Linked DNA regions of Homo sapiens. The protein of the gene in region 2 interacts with the protein of the main gene of each other region in a biochemical or structural test. Each region holds a gene or a part of one and is shown on either strand. Other genes may lie near its edges. The genes, in order: PAWR and FBXO45.

What was found.
Region 1: the proteins of FBXO45 (region 2) and PAWR form a complex in vitro, tested with the Homo sapiens proteins (one study listed by BioGRID).

What each region holds. Positions count from the first base shown.
Region 1 is NC_000012.12:79,683,180-79,698,961, forward strand, and holds the start of PAWR (PRKC apoptosis WT1 regulator protein), read right to left. Parts: upstream 7,786-15,782; 5' UTR 7,693-7,785; intron 7,403-7,692; exon of another isoform or gene 7,377-7,402; intron 7,359-7,376; exon of another isoform or gene 7,213-7,358; 5' UTR 7,066-7,212; coding exon 6,550-7,065; intron 1-6,549. UniProt on the Homo sapiens protein: Pro-apoptotic protein capable of selectively inducing apoptosis in cancer cells, sensitizing the cells to diverse apoptotic stimuli and causing regression of tumors in animal models.
Region 2 is NC_000003.12:196,575,237-196,591,058, reverse strand, and holds the end of FBXO45 (F-box/SPRY domain-containing protein 1), read right to left. Parts: intron 13,607-15,822; coding exon 13,250-13,606; intron 6,927-13,249; coding exon 6,741-6,926; 3' UTR 2,000-6,740; downstream 1-1,999. UniProt on the Homo sapiens protein: Component of E3 ubiquitin ligase complex consisting of FBXO45, MYCBP2 and SKP1. Functions in substrate recognition but also plays an important role in assembly of the complex.

The DNA.
Region 1 (15,782 bases), on a different chromosome or scaffold from region 2:
GTTAAAATATGCACAGTTTTAAATTGGAAGAAAAAAATGAAAATGTTTAACAACCTCATAGGAAATTAACCTATACAGTAACTACAATTTCTGATTTGGGCATTTTTATAACATTTTCACAAACATCATTTTATTTAATTCATGTAACAATCCTGTTAGATAACCAGCATTCATTTCATTTGACGGATCAGTAAACTAGTACAGGGTATTTAAGTTAGTTCTTCCCAAACTTTAGTGTGTACCAAAATCACTCAAGTTAAAATGCAGACTCTCAGATAACATCCCTAACCCAGACTGGGGTGGATTCCAGAAATCTGATTTTAAATAAATGGCAAAAGTGATACTGGTAGAGATGGTCCCCCCAGAAACATCTTTTAGGACACTGATTCTAGTACTGTAACTAAAGTGGTAAGCAGTGGAAACTCCTTTTTTTTTTTTTTTTAACTCTGAATCAATGTTCCCAAATGTTTAGATGACAGAGCTTTGCAGATCTCCATGAAAGATATGTAAAAGTTTTATTAAGGTGAAAGTATTACACTCAGTTAAATTGTTAGGTTTTTGCAAAAGTAATCCAACTATTAGGCTGGTGCCATTACTTTCAATGGCAAAAACTGTGATTACTTTTGCACAAACCTAATAAATACCTATTATACTAAACTCCACTGCAAACAAATGGTAGTAGGTGCCCAAGTTTTAAGAAACTTAAAATTGAGGAGATCCTACCATAATTTCATTTTCTCTGTAAAGTGGGAAAGGCTGATATTAAATTATTTTAAGTTAATGGCTTCTCATAATTTGAATACCATATCACTTTACTGAAAGGAAAGCTAAAATTTAGGGACCAGAGGTTCTAAGAACATAATGAAAAATAAAGATGAAAATATAAAAGCACTTAAGAGCACACCGTGTGAATACTAAAAAACCACTGAACTGTACACTTTAAAAGGGTAAATTTTATTGTATGTGAATTATATCTCAATTTTTAAAAAAGGAAAAAAAGCACAGAGAAAATGTCAAACCCTAATATTTGCCAATAATTTTATACTTATAAAACATTATATCAACCTTGCTATTAAATGGCATAATTATTTTCTGGCACACATCATAGGTGCTAAAAAAAAAATGCAGAAATAATAAATAGCATAGATAGGCTTGGTACGGTAGCTCCCACCTGTAATCCAAGCACTTTGGGAGGCTGAGGCGGGTAGATCACTTGAGGCTGGAAGTTTGAGAGCAGCCTGGCCAACATGGCGAAACACCATCTCTACTAAAAATACAAAAATTAGCCAGGCATGGTGGTGCACACCTGCAGTCCCAGCTACTTGGGAGACTGACGCAGGAGAATTGCTTGAACCCGGGAGGTGGAGGCTGCAGTGAGCTGAGATCACACCACATGCCACTGTACTCCAGCCTGGGCAACAGAGCAAGACTCCACCTCAAAAAAAAAAGAAAGAAAGAAAAAAACAAAGAAAATAGTATAAACAGGCCACTAGCTTGATAATGATTTTAAATAAGAATTTTAATGCCAGTGTTTATATATTCATTTGTTCTCAAAATTTTCCATTAAAGTCTCACTTCATCTATGTTCTATAAATAGGGCTATTTTTAAATTCCATAGTCATATACTAACAATTTAACACTAAAATATTCTTTGTATTTCTTAAACTAGGTATACAGTATGTAATACACTGAAGTGTAGTAAGATGGTTTATTACGCACAAGACTGTGAGTGCAAACTATCTCTAATCTACTTCTCACTACATGTATGACCTGAAGCAAGTAACATACCTTCTCTTCCCCATTTTCCCATAGGGCTGTGGTGAGAATTAAATGCACTAATGTATGTCAAGTGCTTAGAACAGTGCCTGGCACTTAATAAGCACACCATAAATGTCATCTACTTTAATTATGTAATTATTATTTTTATGAGAAATGACATCCCAGCTCAGACAACTCAGTACAAATCCTGATAATATTAAAATTTCAATTTACTTTACCAGTGAGCTCAAACATTTAGGAAAGCTGGGCTAATAGCCCAGGTTTTACACTAAACAGTCTCAGTGTTTACACTATATCTACCCCATTCACGAATCAAATTTTCTCCAACTCTGAGTCATTATTAGTTTCTCTCCTGACTCATCACACAGAAAGGTAGACAGTCTGGAGCATAATGGGAATAACAAAAGGCATTTCTTAATCCACCTGGATTTATAAAGTTTACTAAGTGGAACTTGTCCTATATATAATGTTCAATAAACATACTAAATAATTATGACCTAACCTGTGTTCACTTAAAAGTGCTTTCTATATGTTAAATGCTCCTTTATCTTCCCTTTCACCAACACGAGTTCAAACTATGGAGTAGGTGTCATGACCCCATCTTGATAGAAAAACAATATATCACTTAGGTAAAATCAAAGATTCACATTTTCTGACCACTAGCCAAAAATAAATTTACGTTTTGCCGAGAGCCTGGTGTTCAAAATTTTGCCACTCTATAGGTTAGAGGGTCAGAGGCAATCTCTGAGTCCACAAATTTGACCTGAAATTCTATTCAATTCCATACCTTTACTGTTTTCCTCATTCAGATGTTTAAATTACTTAAGATAATCTTTAATAAAAAGTTATGTAAAAATCTAGGGAAATATGCTGAATAATGAAAAGTAGGTTAATTTTTAAAAACTCCCCTTTCCCTAGATATATACATACACACAAAATACACAAAAATGTTTAAAATATTGCTCTATCAGTTACTTTCTATGTGATCTTGAATCATTTAAGCTCTAAGTCTTCATTTTCTCCTCTGGAAATAGTGATAAACAGTGTAACTACCACATGAGATTGCTGTGAACTTCAGTACATAAAGCACTTTAGCCAACCACTAAAGCTAAACCACTTTAGCCAACCACTATTTTAAAACAGAAGTTTTAAATACTGTATATGTTAACTTTTATACTTAAACCAAAACTTCAGTGCCACCTCTACCTATTCAAAGATTACATTTTCTATGGCACCCATCTCCATTAACCCATTCACACAACCCTACTCAATGGCAGTAACTTCACAAACCCCCTGGAAACAAGTATGTAACTGTCTAGGAAGCTTTCTTCAACTATCACTCCTCCTCCCTGGGTTAGGTACCCTGCTCAGGCACTAAGCTATACTTACTACTCTACTTTTCACATTTCCTTATATTACCTGAGAGCACCTCGTGGGCAAGGCTTATGTCCTATTCATTTCTATACCCAGACTGCAGTCCAACAGTTGTTATCACTGACTCACATTTGAATCAAATGGGGAACTTATAAAAATATTAATGCCTGGGATCCATCCCAGACCCATTCAATATTACAGGGTGGGGTGAAGGGACAAAGAGGGCACGGAATTGAATTAGCATGAGCAAACATTTTTTTAAAGATCCTAACATGCTATCAATGTGCTGCTCAAGTTAAGAACCACTGCATGTCGGTACTTAATATACTATACAAACAATTATGTATACATGTACATATGTGAGAACATATGTAAAAATATACAAGTACTGAAAAGTTTAAGACTCAGGTCAAGATTCTCATCCTCAATAGCTTCTCCCAGCCCAATCATCTCCCCCTTTTAAACACACACTATTTCCAATAAATAGTTACATGCTTCATTAAGATGGCTTTTAAACTGTTAACTCAGTACTTAAATTTTTTCATGTAATTATGCCTTATCCTTCTTCCTAGATTATAGCCTTGCTCCTTGAGAATATACACTGCCGTGTTCTTATTTTCTCCACTGCTTAAGGATAGTGTCTTTAACAGGTATGTAATACACATTTGACTGATCTGATAAACACACACAAAAATTACTGGCAAGAAGTATGCCACGTCCAAATTACCCAGTTCAGGTGAATTACTACCAAAAAATAGAAAATGTAAAAATTTAGAAAAAAGGATATTTTTCTTAAAACTCTTAGTAAATTTTATCTCATTAAAGAAGCTCTGGATAGATCGACTTCAGCCATCACATGCAGTAACCACCCAGTTTCCTACCTCCCAAATAGCTAGTTTCGGTTTTTGACCTGGTTCCTTGCCTATAACTATCTTCTAGTCAATTCTGGTATCTTTAGCTGCTGTCAGATACCTTTATAACAGTATTATATATACACTCTATAACTAGTAAAGTGAGGTAATGAAAGTCACAATAAATGTATCACACAGATGTTTCATAAGTACTTCCTTGAAGGAACTTAATGTTTATCCACCATTAAAACCAGATCTCTACATATGAACTACATGTTAATCTACTAATACAGACTTGGTTGGGAATCATGTCTGAAAATAAGAGTCTTACTCGACATTAGATAAAATAAAGTCTACTTTTGAATATAAAGAGATTGGTCATTTTCATCTTTTTACTTATTTTCATACCCGAAAAATTTGCAAAATATGTATGACTTTTTAAAACAGGGGTGCTAAATTAAATATTACACAAGAAACTCCACAGCAACTGGTATTCTCAATGTTGAAACTACCAGGAGAAATGGCACAATTCTAAAAAAGCAACAATATAAACACATGAAAATGGCTCAGCTTTAAAGTTTTGCATCATATATTTTACCACTATTAAAATAATCTGAAATACATAAGTTGTTTTGAAAAATAAGAAAATATGAGGAGGAGGCGCTCAAGAAGTATGTCTGTTAATTAGATACTGTAGTGAAGCATTACTGTTTTGTTGGGTCCTGCAGCTTGAAACGGACAGAGACATAGTTACCACTAAAAGAAAGCAGTCCTCAATTCCCTATTCAATAAAAAGGTTCAAACTCTACAGACAAAAAAAAAGGTACCCTTGGTTTGTTTGTTTTCAGGGAAGATTAAATTTAGGAGTTGCCAACACCCAAACGAAAAACATTCCAGAGTATTAGACTCCATTGTAGTGGGAAGTCATCTACATTCTCAGCACTATGTTCTCTTACTCAAAGCAGGGGTATTAACAAAAGATGTTTCTTAGGATCTCACAAGATACACTCTACTTACTTCCCCCAGTAAACATTACCCTTGTTTAAAAAAAAAAAAAGTACTTGAAAAATAATTTTAGCACATGCAGCCAGAAAAAAAGTGAAGTTTAACATCTGCCAAGATATTTCCCAAAATAAGACCGCTGTCAGATGAACAATGAGGAAAAGATTGAAAATGACAAATTCTTTTATTTGGATCATCAGCTACTTTTAAAAATCAAGTTGAGGAATGTAGCTTTTCCAAAGCCTTGTCTTCAATTTCCCCTTAATCTTCATATTTTTAACTAAAAAAAAAAAAAAAAAAAACACCTAGAAATTTGATTACCACTCTTACGAATTCCTTCTAAAGCAATTTAATGAATAACAGATCTTTTGTGCAAGTAGCAAACCGCAGAGGACAGTTTTGCTGGCTGATAAAAATCTCTGAAACGCTCATATAAATACGTCCTACAAAGACACACTATGATTTAACAGGTATGGAAATCATAATACTAAAAATTTAGGTATATTTAATATACACCCTAACTTATTGCAAATGCTTCTACTTAAACCACAATTAAAGTTGAGTAAAATTAGAAAGCCAGGAGAAGAAAAAGTGAAAGCTAAACAGTCAATGAGAAAAAGATGCAACTATTTTAGGTGAAACAAGGTAGTTGAACCACTTCCTCAAATCCATGAGCTACTATCAAAGTAATCAAAACTTGTTTGAGATTGTTTTGTCTTGTTTCTGGTAGAGGGAGGTGTGATTATACACTTAGTAAAAATGTTTTACCAGTCACTCTAATGGAAGATGCTGCTACCTGTAACGTTTCGAAAATGCTCCAAACTGCAAACAACCCAAAACAAACAAAAACCCTACCACATGTTTTTCAGACACAGTACTCAAAAAGAGATCGTCTTAGCGAACAGAATTGTGGGTTACTAAATCATCCCTATTGTCCTAAGTATCACTCAGAAAAACACTGTGTGTTTAGGAGCACAACTTATAAACAGCTGATTTATATATAAAATAGTGCACGTATTCATTTGGATATACTCATCTTGAGCTCACTGTAAGATAAAGCTGTCTTGGATATTGCTAAGGCAACATTTTCTTTACAGATGTTATTAAACATTGGTAAGAAAGGAGAAATAAACTGGTAACTTCACATGGGCACGTGAGACCCTAGAGAATGTCGTCACCATTAATCAATTTTTCTAACTGATCAAGCATAAACAGCCAAGTCCAGGTGGCCAAGTCAGCCAAGTCCAGGTGGGCAAGTCCTGGAGCCATAAGTTGTCTTTCTACCACGGTAAAAAAGGATCCTGGATCTGAGACCTGGCCAGGAAGCCTGAAAAGCACGTGTCCTACTCTGAGTTTGGGGAACTTCCCAGGAAGCATTTGTTCAGAGTAAAACTCCATCACCCCCTGCCTGCCTAACTCGGTGAAGGGACAAGTACGAGCCAGGGGAGGTAAACTCTGCGCCCCGGGTAGCTCCCAGGAGGAAGACACCGGGAGGCAGCTGCCCGCCCCGGCCCGGTCCGGCTGCGGCCCCCGCCCGGCTCACCTCTGCGGCAGGGATGTTGACCACGCCGGTGGAGCGCCGCTTCTCCCGCAGCTTCCTCTTCTCGATCTGCCCCTTGCCTTTCCTGGCACTGGGGCCCGAGCTCTTGCCCTTCTCTGGGACGCCGTCCGGCTCCTCCTCGTCACGCTGGGGCGGCGGTGCAGCCGAGGCAGAGGCGGCTGGGGGCTCGTCCTCCGACCGCCGCGGGCCGGGGGCCGCCCGCGTCAGCATGGCGGAGCCGACCGCGCAGTTCACGCCCCCGGGACCGGGGACGGCAGGTGCGGCCGGCGCGCCGCCCGGGAGGTTGTTGTTGAGCTCGTTGGCAGCGGCGGCCGCCGGGGTGCCCAGAGCCCCCGCGGGGGGCTTCCCAGCGGCGTCGCTGCTGCCCCCTCCCGGGGGGGCCGGGCCCGGGGGGTTCTGCTTGGCGCGCATCTTCTCGCGTTTCGCCTTCCACTCCTCCAGGAAGTCTGTGGTGCTGCCGCCGAGGCCGCTGCTGGTCCGGTAGCCACCGGTCGCCATATTCCCAAAGGGGCCGGTCGGGCTCTCACCTCAGGCCGCCCACCAGGGCTCCGGCCGCTGCCTCCTCTTCCTTCCTGCGGCCCCGAGGATGCCAGGAGACGACCTCCAGGAGAGGGACGGCCGCCGCTCCCACAGCAGCCGGCGGGGCTGAGGTGAAAGACAAAAGGGGGCGGGTAAGGGAAGCGTAAGATCCCCGCCCGACCCAAGGGTCTGCCCCCGGGCTGCGCCCCTTGGAGTCCTCGAGCGCGCCCACCAGTCACTACCGGCCAGCAGCCGCCGGGTCCCCACCCTGCAAAGTTTCTCCCACGCACCTACAGTACGGACCCCGACGATCGCCGCCCCTAGAAGGGAGGAGAGAGGACTGACCCCACCCCCAAGTCGGCCCGCCCGCCCCATCCCCACCAAGGTCCGCGCCGGCGGCGGTCGAGATACTAGGGCTAGACCCGCCACCTGTCGGCTCGTCGTATCGCCTGCTCCGCGCTCTAGCCACCGCCGGTCCGAGGTCCCCGTCAGCTACAACCCCACTCCCAAGGCGAGGCGCGGAGCTCCTAGCCGGTTCGCAGAGGAGGCGGGGACCCAGCTGTCCCGCCGAGCGTGGAAAGGACCGGGTGTGAGCGAGCGCCTTACCTTGGAGGAGCTTGTAGGGGACGAGGCGTAGGGCTGGGATCCGGCTCCCAGGTGTGCCGAAGCTGGCGCGCGCTCTTCCGCCGCGCGGAAAGTGCCGCGGCAAACTCGCGGTGCGGAGCTCCAGGCAATCCCAGGACAGGAGGGAGGGAGAAGAAGGAGGGAGGGAGGGAGGGAGGGAGCCAGGGGCGGGAAGGGAGCCGAGCGGCGCCGAAGCACGAGCGGAAAAGGCCGAGGCGGCGCGCGAGGGGCGCGGCGCGCGGTGGGAAGGGTCGTGGCCGCTGACGCCCCGCCCCCGGCGCTCAGGTGCGCGGCGTCGCGTCCGGCCCGCCGCTGCAGCCTGCCCTGCGCCAGCCGTCCTCTGCCCCGCTCCCGCCGCAGACCACAGCGCGCCCGCCGCGCTCCGCCCGCGGCCTGCGAGTTAGACGGCACATTCCTGGGCTAGCAGCTTCGCGGCGTCCGGCCTCCCGGCGCCTCCGACTCCGGGGCGGGAACGGCACTCCACGCCCTTCTTGCTTGTCTTCTCCGCCTCTCTCTTCTCCCACCACTCTTCCTTTTAAGTACAAGACCGTATTATTTGAGAGAAAGTCTCGAACGCTGCTGGCTAAGGGGAAAAGTGCGATAACTTGTGATGATTCAGGGAATGACTAGACAGGATGGGAAAATACCCACGTGTCTCTTTTCCTAGTCGCTGCTCCCTTTTCAGATGTACTAGGGCAGCGGGCAGGAGAATAGAAAGACCTGAGACAAACCCAGCACCCTCCTTCTAAGAAAACTGCGGTGCCCTGGTGAAAAGGGTTGGCTAAGAGGAAGGACTTACTAGTATCTTAGGGTTGCGGGAGAAAAAACTCAGTTCGACAGTTTATTGTATTGGCGATTCCAGTCTTGGAGTTTTCCCCTTAACCCTGTCTCTGCCTCTCCTCTTTACAGAGAATGAATTTAGCAGCAAAGCTCCCTACCAAAGTACTAACGCTGCACTGATGCTAATTTGAGATGAGCTGGGGCAGTGATTGTCTCTATTTTTTCATTATTAACATGCCAGAGGCTTATCCTCTGATGCAAGTCATCTGAAATTTCTGGATCAGAGCGGGGTGGGCTGTCACTGACGCACCTAAGACTGACCTTTCTATATCCAAGTAATGTCAGGGCACATCATTGTGGGAGGCTACAAATGCCAGGTCTCCATTTTGTAAAAAAGTAGGAGAGCCCTAAGTCACGCTCTTACCTAACATAAACCTTTCTTCCTACTTAATATTCCTGTTTTGCCCAGGTAGCACATGATGAGTGAGCAATCAGTGTTTGCCTGCCACAGAACTGGGAACAGAAGAAAGTGATTCACATGCTCTATATTTCTCAGGGAAAGACAGTTTTGGTCTTTGGTCTGGCTGTTGTGGGAAACGTATGGCGAGAGCTCTGGAAAAATCCTTAGAAAATTAAAAGCTTTTGTTGGGAATAGGTCTAAAAGGCTGAGCGGCTGTTTACCTAAGCTAGTACCAACCCCAGTGTGCCACCTGAAGTTTCTCAATTACATATTCATTAGTTTGTTTTCTGAGTTTTAAGGAGAGTAAGGGAGGCTGGGACATTAAACGTATTCACATTCATATGCTTTGTAACTTATCAGAGGACTTTTCTCCTGGAAGGGCTGCAGGATATAGTGGAAAGAGGGTATAGTCAGCTAGCTGAGAGATCTTGGGCATGTTTACATTATCTGGTACTCAGCTTTCTGTACTATAAAATCAGCAAAAATTACATTTTTTTTTTTTTTGAGGCGGAGTCTCGCTCTGTCGCCAGGCTGGAGTGCAGTGGCGGGATCTCAGCTCACTGCAACCTCCGCCTCCTGAGTTCAAGCAATTCTCCTGCTCTCAGCCTCCCAATTACATTATATTTAAGCTGTCTTAAGAACTGACACTGCACATAAAATGTGCTTGATTCGAGGAAGGCACTCAGTAAACATAGTCCCTTCTAGGGGCTTAAAGTCCTTGGTCTCTAAGAAGTGTATGGGAGAAGAGGAAATTATAACAGATGGGGTATTGAATATACAATATCAGCCTAAAAACGATAGACTTTGAATGAACTAGGATAACACCCCACATAAATTTATCACTGCATGGCTTAGACCAGTTCTCTTAGTGTTAATAGGTTCTGAGTCAGGAATTTTGGCTGCTACTGACTTGTGTGGCTTTGGGCAAGTTGCTTAACTTTTGTGCCTCTGTTTACTTACATATAAAATGGGGATAATAATACTTCCTGCATCGTGAGAGTGTTGTGAAAGTGCCTGCAGTCCTTAGATAAAAGGTGGTATGTGAGTACCAGAGTAGGTATTATTAGTCTATAAAGTGCCCTAGGAACCATGGATGAAAGAGATTATTGAGGTACAAAGCTCTGTGTTTTGTTATTATTATCATTTATTATACCTTTTGTCTTTACCATTCTCAATATTCCCGAAGATATATTTCACAGCCAGACTGCTTCCAACATTGCACCGAGGTATTTAGCTGAGTCAGTCCTAAATTGCAAGATGTTTGCATATCATCAATCTTTATGTATAGCGTTCTGATGAAATAATCCTCAAAGACTTGGAGCTTGGTTTCTCAACCTCAGCACTGTTACATTTGGGGCTGGATAATTCTTTGCTGTCCTGCCCATTGTAGGTTGTTTAGCAGCATCGTTGGCTTCTACCTATTAGATACCAATAAGAAACCCCCACCTGTATTGTGACATTGCCACATGGTCCCTGGGATAAAATTCTTCCCCGGTTGAGCACCTCTGAGTTAGCCTAAAATAACCAATTTTTAGCGACTCACTTGCCCTTAATAATAAAATGAAATATGATGATAATGCTGACAAAAACAGATTCATTTAAATATGTCAGAGTGAAACCTAGATGTTAGTCTTAATGATTTTGAGGAAGTGTATTATTATATGTATGGATAGCTAGTGTATTGGGAAGTAGCCATTTTGCCTTCAATGCAGGTATTTCTGGAACATATGCAATTCATCCTCTAACATCAAAATATTATATGTGCATAGGATAAAAAAATTACATACTTTAGTTCTACAAGGATTATAACAAAAAACAGCAATCCCCTCTCTACCTTATCCATTCTGAAAACCCTACCCAAAACTTTGAACTTTTTAACTGTTTCCATTAATAGAGATCTTCATATTTATTTTTTATGTGCATATCTGCTATTGTACATCTTGATTTTTCCATTTTTAGATATAGAAGAGGATTTAGCTCTAATACACTAATAACACATATACTTTTCTTTTCTTTTTCTTTTTTTTTTCTTTTTTTTTGAGATGGAGTCTCGCTCTGTCTCCCAGGCTGGAGTGCAGTGGCGCGATCTCGGCTCACTGCAAGCTCCGCCTCCCGGGTTCACGCCATTCTCCTGCCTCAGCCTCCTGAGTAGCTGGGACTACAGGTGGCTGCCACCACGCCCGGCTAATTTTTTTTTTTTTTTTTTTTTTTTTTTGCATTTTTAGTAGAGACGGGGTTTCACTGTGTTAGCCAGGATGATCTCGATCTCCTGACCTCGTGATCCACCCGCCTCGGCCTCCCAAAGTTCTGGGATTACAGGCATGAGCCACCATGCCCGGCCACACATATACTTTTCATACTCCTACACGCCCGTAGTATTATGACTATACAAATACTGTTCATAGCTGAGTCATGTGGTGTATATGATTGCATTTCTTTTTTTTTACAACTGTTTTTCCTTGTTGCACAACTATACCTTTTGTCTTTACCATTTTTCTGCAGTTAAAACTTGCCTCTTTTTTTTTCTTTAATCATCGGCTTATTTTTTTATATACCAGTCACAAGTATATACTCAAATTTTCCTCCTCTCAATGACGTTAATCACATTGGGTAAGCTATCAGTTCTATTCTCTTTTTGGAAACATCTGTTCTGGAGCCCTCCATCCCCTGCTTTAATATGGATTGATTTTGTTTGTTTGTTTGGAGACGGAGTCTCGCTCTGTTGGTGAGGCTGTAGTGCAGTGGCGCAGTCTTGGCTCACTGCAACCTCCGCCTCCTGGGTTCAAGCAATTCTCCTGCATCAGCCTCCAGAGTAGCTGGGAATACAGGCACATGCCACCACGCCCAGCTAATTTTTTGTATTTTAGTAGAGACGGGGGTTTCACCATGTTGCCCAGACTGGTCTCGAACTTCTGAGCTCAGGCAACCAGCCTGCTTTGGCCTCCCAAAGTGCTGGGATTACAGGTGTGAGCCACCGCACCTGGCCTAATCTGGACTGATTTTAAGGCTCGTTGCTTGTGGTCATCCTGGGATTATGCTCCTCTAACACCTTGAGAATCATTTTCTCTGTAGACTTCTTGTTTCCTGAATTGCATACTTTTCTCTTTTTGTTTCTCCCCTTCATTTTAGCAGAGTATATCCTCAGTATATTCTGAAGATAGTATAACTCATTCTTAGAGACCTTGCATATTGGAAAATGTTTTAAATTTATCTTCATACTTGATTAATAGTTTGGTGGAGCATAGAACTCTAGGTTAGAAAGCATTTTCCTTCATAATTTTGAAGGCATTGCTTTATTATCATCTAGTTTCCAGAGTTGCTGTTTAGAAGACCAGTGGCATTCTGATTGCATTGTATTTTCTGTCTCAAAATTTTTGGATCTTCTTACTTAGATCCTCTGAAATATCTTGAAGATATGCTCTGATTTGGTCTTTTATCATTATTATGTTATGCAGTCAGTGGACCCTTTTAATCAGCTATCTGCCTTCCAGTTAGGAAATTTTCTTATCCTCTTTCTTTTTCTTTGACATGGAGTCTCGCTCTGTCGCCCAGGTCAGAGTGCAGTGGCCTGATCTAGGCTCACAGCAACCTTCACCTTTCGGGTTCAAGCGATTCTCCTGCCTCAGCCTCCTGAGTAGCTGGGATTACAGGCACACACGCCTGGTTAATTTTTGTATTTTTAGTAGAGACGGGGCTTCACCATGTTGGTCAGGTTGGTCTTGAACTCCTGACCTCATGATCCACCTGCCTCAGCCTCCCAAAATGCTGGGATTAGAGGCGTGAGCCACCGTGCCTGGCCTATTCTCTTTCTTTTATAAGACTTTCCTTCTACTTTCTCTGTTCCTGCCTTCTGGAATTCCTGTTAAGTAGGTGTTGGAATGCTAGAAGTTCTCTAACAAATTTTTTCTCTTTTCTCTTTTATTTTTCATTTCCTTGGCATGTTATTCTACTTTTAGTGAAATTTCCTTCACTTTGTATGCCAGTTCTTCTATAGAATTTTCTGTTTCGGACACTATTTCTAATATCTCTTTCTTGTTCTCTAAATATTTTTTTCTGTAGCATCTTGGTCTTATGATACATATTGAGCATTTTGTCCTCTAAGCAAATTGCCTACATTTTTTGTTTGTTTTAATCTTCATCTTTCATGTTAGAGCACTTCCTCATCAGTTTATTCATATTTAAGACTGAAGCACTGCAAAGCTGATTGAAAGCTCTTATGTGAAAAGGAAGACCTTGTTGGACTGATGGGCCTCATTTAGGGAGCCGGTGTTTGGCCGCAGACATTTTCTGGAGGCATGTGTCAAATTCAGCATCTATGGAGCTTCTCTTTTGGCCCAATAATTTTCCTTGAGTAAAACTATTTCTGCTTGTGTTGTCAGTTGCCAATTTTTTCAGGTGCCAAGTAGGGAAAGAAGACTGGAGGAGTCTCATTACTCAATACGCAGGTTTTCACTTAATCCCTATACTTAGTATATCTGACGTACCCAATTTCAGTGCGTTTGTAATTCAACATCTGTACAATGTGAAAACTTCCAGTCCTCTGCCAGGATCAGGAGAGATAGTCTCCTTGCTACTGAGCCCTGCAGAAGGGATTTGAGAATCTAACTGTTCCTTGTGTAGATTTTCAACTAATCCTTCTGTTTTCATCCCCATCCTTCACTCTGTTTCAGAGGTATATGCTGCTGCCTCCAATTCTGAACCTTTCTTCAGGGATCTGCAGGACAAAAAAAGATTACTTCTTATTGGCTTTGTCTCTTGCAGGTTGTTAGAATTTACCTTACTCTGCTCTGCTAAAGCCTGTCTGCTTTCTATCTTTCATCTTCCAAAATTTTGTTCTTACTGTTCATCCTCTTTGTTGTTACTGGTTTATCATTTTACTTTGGTTTTAGTGAAGTTACTTGAGGAAGTAAAGATAAACACGTGTGTTCAGCCTGTTATATTTAATAGGAAGTCCAATTCATCTGTTTTGCAGATTTCTAGATACTTTGCAATCTACTCCATAAGTCCAGATCAGCAGAGACGTCTACATCTTATTTCTGTCCTCAGTGATTTACATCATAAGCCCATATTGATTGACACTATAAGAAAGAGCTCTAAAAATTTGTTTTATTTTCTGTAGGCTTTTTTTGAAGGTGTGGCCCATTATATTACATATATTCCTATTATCAAAAACCTAGAAAACATTTCTGACATCCATATTAAGAATAGATGTGGTTCTCTTTTGGAACTTTTTTTAACCATATAGTAAAACTATTTTTCATATAGCTAGTGAATATTCTGTTTTCAATTGCCTGTAGGTAATCTTAGACCAGATTTTTGGCCTATCCAGGGAAGACCTAGATTTTATGGTGCCTGAAGCTTACATAATTTGGTGGACTTTCTATAAGAAAAATAATCCGTAAGAAAATAAATATTTAGAATAAGTGAGAAATTTTTTTAAATTACAAATTTTAACAAATTGAAAAATGCCATAAATATCACAAAAATCCAGGAAAAAACCCTATTCATTTACTCTCTGACATATTTCTATGCCATTTTGTATGCATTTTATTATTGATTTTATTACTTATTGATGCATAAAGTACATGTCTTTACATGCAGATATATCCACTATTTGTAGTACAAGTATATAGGTTTATGCATCACAAACACAAGAACTCTTATAAATTGTACATCAAAAAAAATCTACTTCAAAAAGGAAAATAATGTATAGGCCATTCATAATTTTATACTCAGCATTATATCATATATTCCAGATAGGAAAGAATATCTATTCCTGATAGGAAAGTATATCAAATGCCAATGAAAACCTAATTCTCTGCTTATTTTACATGTCTCATGATTGGAAGAATTTCCCACAGACTGGTTTTAGTGCCATCAGACTATACCACTCTCTACAAGGAGCAACTCATTGTTCCTGTTGTCAGCCTACTTCCAAGTCACTCTTACTTACTGAGGACTTTAACTGCTAGCTAACCTTCTTTCTCCCCACTCCTCTTTATGTCCAGTTCTTAGTGATAACATCTACAAAGATAATTTATCCAGTCTCCTGGCATCTCAGATACTTGACCTCCTCACTCCAAATAACATTTTTCCTCTTTACCCCCTCTTCAGCTAGATATCTCTTGACTTTGTCATCATCAATAAGTACATCTTCAAAATCTCAGTTCTGAACATTCCATTTTCAACCACTACCACCTAACTCTTCAGCACACTTCCTCTCATACCCCCACTCCAACCATTTTTTGATCTATTGATCCTACTAATTTTTCATTATCCTTCCTTTCCATGTCCTAACTTCCTTACTAGGCTTTAGTTCTAAAGTTTATAATTATTAGCCTCTTCTGTGTATACCTGCTCACCTAAAGAAAGATAGTTAAAAACACTATGGCATGCTTCCTAACCCAACTTTAATGCATGTCCATAGTCTTAACTAGGCAGTCCATACTATCTGGCAATCCTAGTAAGCTTGCTTTCCTGTACTCCAAAATGACTAGTTTATATCAGTCTTTTAAGCCTCCAATACCTCCTTATACCAACCTCACTCTCAGTTGATGAGCTTGCCTTCACACTTCACTGACTCTAAAATAGCACCACTCAGAGTAGGGCTTATCTGCCCAAGACAGCTTTACCCATCTTCCTGCATCTAGATCTACTCTCTGCCTTCTTAATTAAATGAAGTTATCTGCTCCTCTTAAAGGCTGTCCTGCCACCTGTATCTTTCCCCTTTTGAGGGTTTTGCTTCTACAATTATACTCTCATGCATAATCAGTTTCTTCTCTATTAAATCATTCCCTTCAGCATACAAATGAGCTCTAGTAATTCCCTCTGT
Region 2 (15,822 bases):
CTCCCCCACCACTTGTCCAGCATGGTTCCAGACATAGCGGACCTATCTGTGCCTCCGTATCATAGCACGTCCTATCCCACTTGCCTGGAACAGTGGATTTATCCTCATTAGCTCCCACCTACTATCTTCTAAGCTCAGCTTAAACATCGCCCCAGGTTAACTATTCCCTCTCCTATGCCACCCTGGACCTCACCTGTAATTTCGTTAAAGCAGTTACCTCAGTTTCACAGTAGTCTGTTTCCACATTTGCTTTCACAGAAGCTTGTCAGCAACTTCGATTTTTCCTTCTCATCTTTCCATCTCTAGTACCTGGTAAAAGCCTGCTAGATAACGGATGTTAGAAAATAATTTGATGAATGATCTTTCCTGCCTTTTTCATTCTGTCTACATTACCAAGTGGATGACTAGTAGCTGGGTGGGCAGGGAGATCCTTCAAAATTTCAGAAGCTCAACTATGGCCATGTAAAACCTAGAGTGGCCTCCGTGACTCCGTCGGCACTGAAGTTCCTGTAGGCTGTGCTCAGAAGGGTGGATTGCGCTGGGCTTTGCCACCAGTCTCTGCTCAGAGCAGTGTCTTTGCTACCAACATGTCTTTTAGCAAAGTAACCATCTGTCCGTGCTATTCTGGGCAATTGGATCATGAACTACATCACTCTTTGGCCTACTGAGGGGTTAGAGATGTCATCAACAACTCTCATTGCAACCTTAAGCCTCCTTTCCTTCCAAGGTGAAGATGACCAACAAGGGGGCACAGATCAATCATATGCTCTTTAAACATGGGTTGGGAATATGAACAAGTTAGCTATATTAAAATAAACAAAGATATCTGGTCTGTTCCCACTACAATATGCCTCTAATGAATCTAACTTGAGACGCTAGAATTTTAATACATTATTTCAGGGAGACTTTCTTAAGGGAGCTATGACCTCAAAACCATTACTTGATTTTATCCCCATTTTATTTATACAGGAAAGGGGGCAGAAATATAACATGGTGTACAAGTATCATATCATATCATAGACAGGACTTGACTTCTCTAATCTTTTCTTAATGTTTTCCTGCCTTAAACAGAAATTAAACACTATCAACAGGGTGACCTAAGGAAACTCCCCAAATGATTCCTACTTCTTGAGCCACTCATCATGAAATCCTACATACAAAAGCTGAATAACAATCTTAAATCTTAAAGGGCTACTTCTTTCAGCAAACTATTATTCTGAAGACTAGAGAACATGTTGCTCTCAACAGTATTTTAGTGAACACATTAAATAAGAAGCAAACAGTTCGAGGGAGGATCCAAAAAAGAAATCAGGACAACAGACTGGTAAAGCTGTCTCTGGCGTCTCTTTCCACTAAACAAAGCGGCAAATACAGAACATTTACACCTATTTTTCTTTTATAAAATTTAAATGCTTTGGGCTGGGCACGGTGGCTCATGCCTGTAATCCCAGCACTTTGGGAGGCCGAGGCACACGGATCACCTGAGGCAGGGGTTGCAATGAGCCGAGAGCACATCAACTGCTCTCCAGCCTGGGTGACAGAGCAAGACTTTGTCTCAAAAAAAAAAAAAAAAAAAAAAAAAAAAAAAAAAAAAAAAAAAAAATTAAAATGCTTTGAACTTTAACATATCAGCCAACTTGTTTAGCAACATCATCAACTGATTCTCTTTTAAGCTTTTGGATCACAGGAGCCGTGTATTCAGCCAGTTCAGGAATAGCATGCCTGTCTCTCATAATTCTTGGCAAACAACTGCATTATCAAACAAATGTCAGCAGGAGGGTGGGGTGGGGGGCGGTAGAGGCAATTGGGAAATAAGACCCTAGTGAATTACTGTTCTCTGTCCACTTTCCATTCTAAACATGGGGAATGTGGATTCTATTATTAAAGCCATGGAATTTATAGGTAAATTCCATCACCACCTCTGGCTATTAAGGCACCCCAATTTTTCTTTCTAACCAATGTGTAAAAAATGTCTTTAAATGTAAGCAATCACAGGTGGTTAATGTTTAACTTTTTATTAAGAAACTAAGGCAAAACAACAGAATTCCAAAAAATAAAGATACAGAATTCTAATTTAAATTCTAAACAAATATAAAAATCAGAGTTTACCAGTATTTTTGAGTAGAGGGGAGTGGCTAAATGCATTCACAGTAATTATTTCTTCCTTACCAGCCTCAAGTTTGCAACCCTTTCCTTCCTGCTTCACTGGGACTAGAACAGAATTTCTCATTCATCTTTTGCTACTATAATTTTTGCTTCTATAGTCTAAAACTTCAGAGGAGCTTTTGTCTTTCTCCGCAGTTCTTTCTCTGTTCCTTCAGCAAATATGTGAGCACCTGCCTATTGGGCTTACATGTTGTGGCACAAAGATGAGTCCGTTAGAGATCCTGTCCCAGTTTAGGGGCGATATGACACCAATAAATAATCAATAAATAATTTTAAACAAGGTATAAATAAATACAGCATGAGTCAACTATAGATATATAAAACTAGGGAAATTTCAAGGAGAGATTACATTCAGCTAGAGAAACTGAGGAATGTTTTTGAGGACAGCATTTGGGCTGGGTGTGGGCTGTTCCTAATAAAGGCTTCCAAGTGGTCCTGATTATCTACCACAGTCCCAATTGTGGAACTGTGGTGGTCTCAATTTCTGGAAAGTAATCTTTTCAATGCTAACCTTTAAAACTCCTTAAATTTCTGGCCTGGCACGGTGGCTCGCGCCTGTAACCCCAGCACTTTGGGAGGCGAGGTGGGTGGTGTTGGCCAGGAGTTCAAGACCAGCCTGGCCAACATGGCATAAACCCCCTCTACTAAAAATACAAAGATTAGGCCCGGGAACAGTGGCTCATGCCTGTAATCCCAGCACTTTGGGAGGCTGAGGTGGGTGGATCACAAGGTCAGGAGTTCGAGACCAGCCTGGCCAACATGGTGAAACCCCGTCTCTATTAAAAATACAAAAATTAGCCAGGCATGGTGGCAGGTGCCTGTAATCCCAGCTACTCGGGAGACTGAGGCAGGAGAATCACTTGAACCCGGGAGGCAAAGGTTGCAGTGAACTGAGATCACACCACCGCACTCCAGCCTGGGCAACAGAGCAAGACTCCGTCTAAAAGAAAAAAGAAAAAAATTAGCCAGGTGTGGTGGCACATGCTACTCGGGAGGCTGAGGCACGAGAATTGCTTGAACCTGGGTGGCAAAGGTTGCAGTGAGTCAAGATCGTGCACTCCAGCCTGCGTGACTCTGTCTCCAAAAAAGAAACACACACACCACTCCCTAAGTTTCTATCTCTTCAAATTACTCACTTCTTCAAAATAACAAAAAAAAATTAATATTAATATGACAATCTACATAGTTTGGGGATTTAAAAGTTAAAGCTGGGTATAGTGGCATACACCTGTAATCCCAGCTACTTGGGAGGCTGAGGCAGGAAGACTGCTTGAGCCCAGGAGTTCAAGACCTGCCTAGGCAGTAGAGTGAAACCCTGTCTCCAAAAACAAACAAAAGTTCATTATACAGTAGTAGTTTCTTTATGGTTTAGGGCTCTGCTATTTTTGAAACTCTTTCTCCAGTCAAATAATTCTAAAAGGCAGAAAATGCCTAATCACTGAACAATGATTTTAAATATTAACTGGGTAAATCTTACTTTCTTTTGGTGTCTTATTGAATCCATATCTACACTTTATGTGAATGAGGGAGATGAAATAAATGGCTTAACATTTAAGTCAAATAATGAGAAAATAATGGCAACTATGAAATGACATTAACCACAAATTCCTTGTATGAAAAGATTTAATGAATTATGAGCCATTGATCATTACAAACTTTAAGCCTTAATATTTCTTCTTTCCTATGTAAAACCAGGTAATTAAAACAGCCTGTCTCAGTATGACAGAAGACCATAGTAGGGATAATAGTAACGTCTGCTTCCACATCTGCATGCTTCGTTAACCAACCAAAGAAAGTGCTCCAGGTTTCCCAAGTCAACAAAGTATACTCAGTTACACTTTCCCTGATCATACTATGAATTGAAACAGAACACTCCTTTGACTTTTAATAGCACTTTTCATCCACGGCACAAGCACTTTCCCATTATTTTCTCCTTTACCCTCAATATCCTTGTGAGGTAGTGAAGGGAGGGAGCAAGGATTTTTTTTTTTCTATTTTGCAGATGAGAAAACTCAAGGTGAATTTTACAACAGTGGTTCTCAACCTTGGCAGCATATTGAAATGACCAGAAAGTTTTTAAAAATCCTTATGACCAGCTCATATTCCAGACCAACATCAGAATCTTGGCATACGGAACCCAAGCATCGATGTGTCTTCCAACATTCCAAAGTGACTACAAAGTGTATACAGCCAACACTGAGAACCACTGGTTTGAATGATTTACACTCAATCTTCAGGCGCAACTGTCTTCTACCGAAATGCTCTCCTCAGCACCAATGACAAAGATATTCCATCTCCTTGAGCACTGCAGCAGTTTAAGATTTTGTAGAGCTACTACTGGGTTTTAGTGACAAATTTACGTAAATGAAGGCCCTCATGACCCAGATGCTCATGCTGCTCACTTCAATTGCATATGATTTGCGAATGGGACATTCGGGAATTTAAATCTTTGAGATAAGAATGGCTTGTTGTTAAATATTGAGGCAATTATTTCATTCTAGGTCCAATACGCAATAACCATGTGTTTCGGTTTTCCACTCAGCACCTTCAAAACTGTTGCAAATGAATGTTTACTAACAAGACAAAAGAGACAATTATAAACCAAACTCTCAACAAAATTCGGAATGGCCACATCACAACCTGAAAAAGAAACAAGTACTTAAAGGACTTGATCACTTCCTAACAAGTCCATCTTCAACCTGAACCACTTCTCTTGTTTAATCAAATTTTAAACTTTGCCGAACTGAGTTGTTCTACACCAAGAAAAATCAATTTCTATACCACCTACATTCTCTAATACATTTAACATATAATTTCACTCAATACAAGGAGGTTTCTTCTTAACCTGGACATCGAAAAGAATCTTTAACAGATTTCATCTTTTCAAGCAATGTATCAAATACACAATAAATACTTGTAAACTTTTCAGGTGGCAACAATAAATCTTTGTTCTATGGCTGAAATCCCTTGCTTCACAGGAGTATTGACAATCTTAACTCCCAAGGAGCAATCCAAGAATCCCGGCCAGCTGCTGGGTGTCCCTAATCAGATTTAAAACAAAACATACATACAGCAAGAACTCAGAAGTACAAAGATTTCGCTCGCTTTTGTCAATTCTTATGTATCTAAAACCATACAATTTATACTTTCATACAGAAAGATGTCTGTTTCTTTTCTAACAAAAGAAAAACTCTCAGCTCATGTGGGTTGGATTATTAATTCAAAAGCATTTTAGTGATGAGAAACAAGATTTGTAAGTCAAAATAGGAGTTAATGTTAAACTCTTCTACAACGAAACCTTCAAATATTGCCAACCTGAAGTTTTCAGCACAAGGTGTTGTATTTCAAGTCCCATGGGGGCAATTATCTATAATGAGATTAAGAATATTCTTAACCTGTTTCAGCTGGGTAAGTAAACGTTTTCTTTATAGCCCCAATAACGAGTTTGAGGCTTAGATTAGTTGCATGATGTAAACAATATGAAATTAAAATTTTTTTGATAATATCTACAGCATTTATAAGGTTACAAAATAAAAGGACCATTAATCAATTCTTTTTTTCCTAGGCTCTATGACTAATAGCTTTCATATTTGAGGCCTACAAGAGCAAATGGCAATGTTCTGTGTTATGAGACACTTTCTTAGAAGGCCAAAAATAAAACTGGATACCAAAAGATACACATTACTATTATGTTGAGATCATCCTTACTGATATATGTATAATTAGAAATAGATTTGCCTTCCTTCAATCTTTAGCCAGGAGACTGAGAGATCTTTACTATGATTTTGAGAGTAAAAACAAAAACAAACCAGACTCTAACAGCTATGGGAACTGTAAGCCAAAAATAATACAAAATGAGTCAATACAACACATCTCCTCTTAAAATCCTCTTCTTTGTAGTTAACCCAGTTGTCCCCAAATGTTATTCCAATTTTGTAACCATGTAGTGGTTTTTAAGAAATTAGAACTAGAACAAAACAACCTGTTTGTCCTTTCTTTTTTACAGTTTTTTTTTTTTACACACATATTATATACAACTTTTAAAATAGCTGCACAATTTTATATCTCACTTTTAGAGAAGTGCAGTCCAGGCAGACCATGCTTCTCAATATATTAAAAATATTAAATAAAACCCAACCAGTTTCATACTTTTCTAATAGTCAAGCTGGCTGGAAAAAAAAGGACTGGAGAAAGAACAGGCAGTTGTAAAATGGGATCAGTCTTCACAAACACACTACTTAAAAATCTTGCTATTTCCTTATCCCTTTGACAGCATCTCTACAATCTCACCTTTAAAGCTGGAAATAACACATTGCTAACTTAGAGACAACATCGGGTGCAACATGCATATGTCAACTGCCCACTCAACCAACTGCAACCCTGAGGATTTTTCTGGCCCAGTAGAAAGAGGAAACACGAAGATAATCTCTGCTGTAGAGCTGCTTCTCCAGTTTACGACTTCATGTGTTTTCAGGATGTTTCTTGGACATGCATGTGTGACAGTCACTTCATGGTTCTACTTCCCATAAGCAGATCTCTCCTCCATTCTGTCTGTCATCACAAGAAAGCCACTGTCATCCGTCCAAAGGTTTTCCAAGGTAAACCAAAGTCACTTCTGTGTTGCCATATACAGCAGAAACTGCTGGGTATAAGCAGACCTTTGGAAGTCCTCTAAAAGCAACCCCCAGGAACTCATATCCACGTTCAAAAGCTAAAGTCTTATCTTCCATGTCCAAGATGACTCGAATTCTTTCTCCTATCTGCAAACAGATATCAAAAGGTTAGAAGAAAATCTGCCAAGGGTGTAGCTAGAAGAAACAAGACACAAATCAAGAAGTTGAAAATATTAAGAATATTATCCTGAAAGCTATCTAGAAAAATCAGAAGGGAAGCTTTCTAGTCAGGAAGAAACATCTATAAAAAAAGGACATACATCTGGCCGGGCATAGTGGCTCATGCCTATAATCCCAGCACTTTGGGAGGCTGAGGCGGGCGGATTGCTTGAGCCCAGGAGTTCAAGACCAGCCTGGGCAACATGGTGAAAACCCATCTCTATTAAAAATACAAAAATTAGCTGGGTGTGGTGGCGCAAAGCTGGTATCGCACCACTGCCCACTGCACTCCAGCCTAGGTAACACATCACAAATGCTTACTTTGATAGTTTTGTTTTTAAGACTCACATGGAATCTACACTTAATTACTTACAATTTAAATGTTCCACCTGAACACTACCTAGATTGATTTTATTTACTCTTTGTTTAAAGGTTTTTCTTAAGGTTAACACTAAAATCTATAACTTGGCATATTTTACCAAAAAGAGCAATCTAAATCAGCTTCTCAAATTACTATACTATACATACAACGGAACTTTTTTTTTTTTTTTTTTTGAGACGGAGTCTTGCTCTGTCGCCCAGGCTGGAGTGCAGTGGTGCAATCTCAGCTCACTGCAAGCTCCGCCTCCCGGGTTCATGCCATTCTCCTGCCTCAGCCTCCCCAGTAGCTGGGACTACAGGTGCCCGCCACCACGCCCGGCTAATTTTTTGTATTTTTAGTAGAGACGGGTTTCACCGTGTTAGCCAGGATGGTCTCCATCTCCTGACCTCGTGATCCACCTGCCTCAGCCTCCCAAAGTGCTGGGATTACAGGCATGAGCCATCGCGCCCGGCCGTACAATGGAATATTATTCAGCCATAAACAGAAATGAAATTTTGATATATGCTACAACATAGATAGACCCTGAAAATATTATGCTAAGTGAAATGAGCCAGACACAAAAGGCTAAATGGTATGATTCCACCTATATAAAGTATCTAGAATACTCAAATATATATAGTTGTAGAGCAGAGTTTACCAGGGGTGGGGAGTGAAGGAAATAGGGAATGAACATAATAGAGATTATGTTGGGGTGAGGAAAAAGTTTTGGGTATAGAGAGAGGTGTGTGAATGTATTTAATGCCACTGAATTGTATACTTACAAATGGTTAAAATAATAAATATGTATGTTTCACCACAATTTTAAAAATCACCTTAGTAAGACACACAGCTTTTAAAGTTTACAAAGCAGTTCCACATGTAATGTGGAATCATGAATAATCCAATCTGGCTACAAATTCTAATGTAGAATATAGAATAGGCTTATTAAACAATTTGTGGTTCACAACTCTGAAACACCTGTTTGTTATAAAAAACAGCAGCACTGATTATTAAACGAAACTGGAAGCAGAATATATCCAGTTTTTTCCCATTTGGAAAAGTAAGCAAAAAAAAAAAAAGGATGTTTCATCTTTTTAGTTTGCCTTTATAAAAAGATGTTGCATCTACAAAATTGGAAACAGAAAGTCCTAATGTTTGCAATCAAAATTTAATTCTACCTGATTATAACCCCTACTATTGTCATTTACTTTCCTTCACTGTATTTCCTGTTAACAGTAACTGCCAACATCTGCTTTTTTCCTCCCTTTGCCCACCTCACAGATTAACCCACACCTCATTTTATGGATCTAAGAACCTCCAAATCATCATCACCACCACTCCTACCAACAAAATATTAACAAAGTAGAAATGAAAAGCTAATTTTGTTGGGTATTTGTGTTGTGTCGTATTTGTATTATCCCATTTAATCCTCACACTAATCCTAGGAACTATCCCTATTTTACAGAAGTTGAAACTAAGTAACGATTACTCCTGGTGAAATCTGCAAATCTGCTTCACCTTTGAGCACACAGCACGCACAAAGCCCAGGGTGGAGAAAGCGAAGTCTTACCATCTTTAGGTGCTGGGGTAAAACGTGGGGAGATGGCAGAGCAACTGGAAACTTAGAGGAGGAACTCCAGAAGCAACAGAACCACAGAAAGGATGAACCCCAAAATCTGAGAATTAACTTCCCAAATCCCTGAGTGACCACTATATTACAAAGGCACAGGGTAAACCTCCAGGACTAAAAAAGCAGCAAAGCTGAAAAAACTGAGCAGACATTAGCTGCCACACATCACATGAGACAGAGTTTATAGTTTGAGTATAGGCAAGTTAACTGCCTACTAAAACAAGAAAACCTATACTTTTCAGAGAATAAAGCAGTTTCTAGAAACAAAACATTCAGGAGTTACTACTACATATTATCTACACATCTAGGTTTCAGTTAAAAAAATTACTAGATATGAAAAGAAACAGGAAAGCGTGATTCATATTTAGGGGAAAAAAGCAATCAACAGAAGCTGAATCCAAGTGGTCCTAAGTGTTGGATTTGGTAAAGACTTCAAAGCAGCTGTTATGAATATGTCCAAAGATTTTTTTACAAATATAGTATAAGTAAATAAATAAGGAATCTCGAAAAGGAAATTTACTCTAAAAAAGAACCAGGCCCAGTGTGGTGGCTCACGCCTGTAATCCCAGTACTTTCACTTTGGGAGGCCGAGGCGGGCGGATCACGAGGTCAAGAGATCGAGACCATCCTGGCCAACATGGTGAAACCTCATCTCTACTAAAAATACAAAAATTAGCTGGGCATGGTGGCACACACCTGTAGTCCCAGCTACTCAGGAGGCTGAGGCAGAAGAATCACTTGAACCCGGGAGTCGGTGGCTGCAGTGAGCCCAGATCGTGCCACTGCACTCCAGCCTGACGACAGAGTGAGACTGTCTCAAAAAAAAAAAAAAAAAAAAAAAAAAAAGGAAAAAGAAAAAAAAGGAAATTCTAAAGCTGAAGTGTACAATAAGCAAAATTTACTAGCCCAGTTCAATAGCAGAGGTGAGATGGCAAAAGAAAAAAATTTATAACCTTGAAGACAGAACAGAAATTATCTAATTTAGGTCAAGCCCAGTGGTTCATGCCTATAATCCCAGCACTTTGGGAGACTGAGGCAGGCAGCTGCTTGAGCTCAGGAGTTTGAAACCAGCCTGGGCAAAATGGCAAAACCCTGTCTCTACAAAAAATACAAATATTAGCCAGGCATTGGTGGGGAGCACCTGTAGTCCCAGCTACTCTGGAGGCTGAGGTGGGATGATCACTTGAGCCTGGGAGGCAGAGGTTTCAGTGAGCCAAGATCATCACGCCACTGCACCACTGCACCACTCCAGCCGAGGTGTCAGAGCGAGACCCTATCTCAAAAAAAAAAAGGAAAAGAAATTATCTAATGCAAAGATTAGAGAGAAACAAGGTTGGGGGAAAAAACAAGAACATAGTTTTAGAGGCAGAGATAAGGACAACATCAAGCAATCCAACACTTACATTAAAGGTAAATGAACTAAACACTTAAAAGTCAGAGACCGAAGCTGGGCGCAGTGGCTCACAACCTGTAATCCCAGCAACTGGGAGGCCAAGGCAGGTGGATCACTTGAGGTTGGGAGTTCGAGACCAGCCTGACCAACATGGAGAAACCCCGTCTCGCCAGGCATGGTGGCTCATGCCTGTAATCCGAGCACTTTGGGAGGCTGAGGCAGGCGGATCACGAGGTCAGGAGTTCGAGACCAGCCTGGCCAACGTGGTGAAACCCCGTCTCTACTAAAAATACAAAAATTAGCTGGGTGTGGTGGCGCATGCCTGTAATCCCAGCTACCCAAGAGGCTGAGGTAGGAGAACTGCTTGAACCGGGACCCGGGAGGCAGAGGTTGCGGTGAGCTGAGATCATGCCATTGCACTCCAGCATGGGCAACAAGAGTGAAACTCTGTCTCAAAAGGAGAAAAAAAAAAAAAAGAAACCCCTTCTCTACTAAAAAAATATAAAATTAAATTAGCCGGGCGTGGTTTAGAGGCGCATGCCTCTAATCCCAGCTACTCGGGAGGCTGAGGCAGGAGAATCACTTGAACCTGGGAGGTGGAGGTTGCGGTGAGCCGAGATTGCGCCATTGCACTTCCAGCCTGGGCAACAAGAGTAAAACTCCGTCTCAAAAAAAAAAAGTCAGAGACAGAGACTGGGTTAGATAAAAATCAAGATCCAACTATGTGCTGTGTAGGAGCTCCACTTTAAATACAAAGACAGATTGACAGAGGATTACTAGAGTCAAAGGAAGTCATTTCATAATAAAAGAATAAATCAGGCAGGGAGATAAAACAATTAGAAATGTATATGCACCAGTAGTAACAGAGCTCCAAAATACATGAAGCAAACACTGAGAGAACTAAAAGAAGAAAGACAAATTAGCAAGGATAGATGGAGATTTCAATACTCCTCTTAGTAAATAATAGAAGGGTAGAAAAAAATCAGTAACACTATGTAAGACTTGAACATTATCAATCGACTTTGCCTAATTCTCATTTACAGAATATTCCATTCAGCAAAAGAATATACATTTTTTCAAGCACACATGGGACACTCATCCAGACAGACCACATATTAGAATAAAACAAATCTCAATAAATTTAAAAGGACTAAAACCATAGAGCATGTTCTCTGAAAAACAGACTTAAGGACTTTCACTTACAAAATCATTACAAGGGTGGCGACAGGACTTCGTTTTTAGTGATAAAGTCTACACACCCTTCTCCTTATAGTATCCGCAGAGCCTAAAAGGATAGTGAGGAAACATTCCATGAAAAAAATCCTTCCAGCTTTTATACCTCAGAAAATGGGATGTATTTTTGGTTCTTCTGCTTTAGTATGCCTGACTTGAGGTCATTACTGAGGCTGGAACTTTCACGCCACAGGTGGCTCTGAAATATGCAATCTATAGTTCTTTAAAGACTTCCAATTTCTTATCAGATTATTGTATATTACACCCTGTTAAGTCTGTAGTAATAAATACGGCTTTTACAAATAGGAACTATAATTTTAACTTGAGTCAAATGAGTATGCCTTAAGCCTAAGATGAAAAGAATAAAAAATACAGCAGTTTGCCTGAATTTGCCTGTCTCTGCAGAACTCACTGATGCCTCCAGGGGCTTTGAATCCACAAACATGTGCATGCACAGAGCTGTATTTACTGGGGTAAGGAGCCTAGAAAAAGATTTGGATGTGCCGTGATACAGGAAAGATGACCATCTAGAGCAGGGGTATTCAATCCTTTGGCTTCCCTGGGCCACACTGGAAGAATTGTTTTGGGCCACACATAAAATACACTAACACTAAAGATAGCTAATCAGCTTTAAAAAAAAAAATTGCAAAAAAATCTCATAATGTTTTAAGAAAGTTTATGAATTTGCATTGGGTCACAATCAAAGCCATCTTGGGCTGCATGCAGGCTGTGGGTTGGACAAGCTTGATATAGAGCATGAACTGGCAAACTACAGCCCCTGGACCAAATCTGTCCTGCAGCCCATAAATAAGGTCTATGGAATACAGCCATGTTCGTTCATTTACGTATTATCGATGACTGCTTTTGTACTATAAATAGAGTTGAAACTCGTGATAGATCCTTACCTTGAAAATGACATTAAAAAAAAAAAGTTGTGACAGAGACCATATGGACTGCAAAGACTTAAAGATTTACTACGTGGCCCTTACAAAAAGTTTGCCAACCCCTGATCTGGAGCAAAAATAGGCTGCTTAAAGTTGTATTAGGAAACAAATATTGAGATAGATCATTTATACATTTATTTAAAAATGGTCAAAAAATCTCCTTGAGGCTGGGCATGGTGGCTCACGCCTGTAATCCCAGCACTTTGGGAGGCCAAGGCAGGTGAATCACGAGGTTAGGAGTTCAAGACCAGCCTGGCCAAGATGGTGAAACCCTGTCTCTACTAAAAATACAAAAATTAGCCAGGCATGGTGGTGGGCGCCTGTAATCCCAACTACTGAGGCTGAGGCAGAGAATTGCTTGAACCTGGGAGGTGCAGGTTGCAGTGAGCCGAGTTGGCGCCACTGCACTCTAGCCTGGGCAACGGAGTGAGATTCTGTCTAAAAAAAAAAAAAGAATATTTTTCTGCATAGCCAAAATCAAAATATAACACCCAACAAAATTAACTATAACCCCCTAACATTAAAAAAAAAAAATCTCCTTGAAGTCTGGGTATCTGAAAAAATAAAAAAATAATAAAAATAAAAATTACCAAAAAGACAAAAACTGCTATATAAAAATTTGTAAATTTAAAACAAATTAAGGCGTGATTTGACAAAGGCCCATACTTGAGAAAAACCCCAGTTTCTCACCTGATATTTTGGTGCGTTGTTGCACTGTGGAAAACTGCCATTGACTTCTCCATTATGTAGTAGATTATTGTCCACCAGATTCCAGCCCCAGCTCTGGTCATCACTGCCCAGCAATGCCACATAACCTTGGCACTGCATGGGGGCCCGTTTTGTGGCAATTCCAATCACTGCCACAGTGCCCAGAGGGCCCTCCCACCACACTTCCCATGCATGGCGGCCCTCACTGAAACCAATCTTGGTCCTTGCACCATCAGTGCTCTGAGCAATGGGGTTTCGATGTAAAGTAAAGCCATTCTTCTTAATGTAGACATTCCTGGAGCAGTCATTAGTGCTGAAGGCATGTTGAAAAGCACGTATCTAAAAAGATGAAAAACAGACCAAATAAATAACAATTTTATTTTTCTTAAATATTAAAAATTACCCAAACTTCACGCTGTATGTTTTTAAATAACGAAGTTATATATTTTAAAATAACACAAGTATTTCCAAATAATGGCTGAAGTTTCAGGATGGAATACTAACAGAATAAATAACATTAAAAAATAAATGCCAACCGTTTCATCACTGACCAAAATTTTAAATTGTAGTATTTCCTCAAACAGACTTCTTAAAACATCAAAAGATACAAAAAAGAAAAATCCTTATATCTTACAGATAATACTGAAACGTTTATGGATAAAATAATGGTATCTGGGAATTGCTTTGAAATATCCAGAGATGGAGTGGGAGAGTGTGCAATAGAAACATGAAACTAGACTGGCCATAAATTAATCATTGGCAAAGCTTGGTGATGGGTATAAGGAAGTTCATCAAACTATTTTCTCTACTTTTGTTTATATTTGATATTTTTATACCAAAAAGTTGAGATGTACAGTTTTCATATGGGCAATGCTGTCATCAAAAAGAATTATATTTTACATAAAACAGAAACTTTAATCCTAGCAGCTCTAAAGTTTATGAAAAATTTTAGTAAACACAAACTACCTTAGATCCTCAGCCTACTTGCTGGATATGACTTACACAATAAAAAAATCACCAATCTCATTTTACCAAATCAAATAATCCCTTAGATAGCATCTAGGTTCAACTACTAGAATTTATGAAGAGAAGCTATCAATAAGACAAGTTAGTTGACTCTTCAGTAAATACAAAGGTTTACACTTCCAAAATAAAGAGGGTATGAAAATAGCTCTTCTATACAAACAATAACAATTTCTCATAAACAATTTTAAACTTTTAGTTTGTGTATTTTAAATTTTTTTTAGACAACGTCTCACTCTGTCACCCAGACTGCAGTGCAGTGGCACAATCGTAGCGCACTGCAGCCTTGAACTCCTTGGCTCAAGTGATACTCCCATCTCAGTCTTCCGAGTAGCTGGGGTTACAGGTTCGAGTCACTACGCCTGCCTGGCTAGTATGTTTTTAAAAAATCCCTTCTCTACTTTAGTCAAACTACCCAAAGCAGTGGAAGGCTGGGACCTATGCTTCAGCTAACCTGAGAAAAATCAACTCCAGAGGCATAGAATGTCAGCATTTAGGAAGACCCTTAAAGGTCACCTAGTCCTTCTCAGGGATTTCAACCGCGAGTTAGTGCAAGAGGCCCAAAGAGAGATCAAGGATCCAGTCCCCTCACCACCTGTTCGTTTACCATTCGCTGGCACTCTACCGTTTCAGTGAGCTGCAGAGCGCAGATTTAAAAACAGAGAACTATTTGTTTCCAGTATCCCATGCATTCACAATAAAACTGAGGCATTCCCAATGTTTTTCCTATCTGCTCGTATTATAAAATACTTTAAGGCACTTATAAGACCAAAACGTAAGATTCAATGAAGGGGCCGGGCGCGGTGGCTCACCCCTGCAATCCCAGCACTTTGGGAAGGCAAGGTGGGCAAATCGCCTGAACTCGGAGTTCAAGACTAGCCTGGGCAACATGGCGAAACCCCAACTCTAGTAAAAATACAAAAAATTAGCTGGGCGTGGCAGTGCACGCTTGTAATCCCAGCTACTTGGGAGGCTGAGGCAGAAGGAATGCTTGAGCCCAGGAGGCAGAGGATGCAGTGAGCCAAAATCACACCACTGCACTCCAGCCTGGGTGACAAAGTGAGACCCTGTCTCAAAAAAAAAAAAAGAAACAAAGAAAAGAAAGGAAAAGAAGATTAAATGGGGAAGGAACATGTCCCCAAAATAGCAAATACTGTCTAAATAACTCAAGAGAATAATATCAATAATTCACTATAAAATATTTAATTAATATTTCCCTATGCCTACTCCCCAATTCTTATAAATTCCAATTTCACATTGACACTATTGACAACCTCTTCCTTAAACTTCCTTTTCTTTTTTTTTTTTTTTGAGACAGAGTCTCACTCTGTCACCCAAGCTGGAGTGCAGTGGCTCAATCTCAGCTCACTGCAACCTCTGCCTCCTGGGTTCAAGCGATTCTCCTGTCTCAGCCTCCCCCGAGTAGCTGGGATTACAGACGTGCACCACCACACCCGGCTAATTTTTGAATTTTGAATAGAGACAGGGTTTCACCATGTTGGCCAGGCTGGTCTCAAACTCCTGACCTCAGG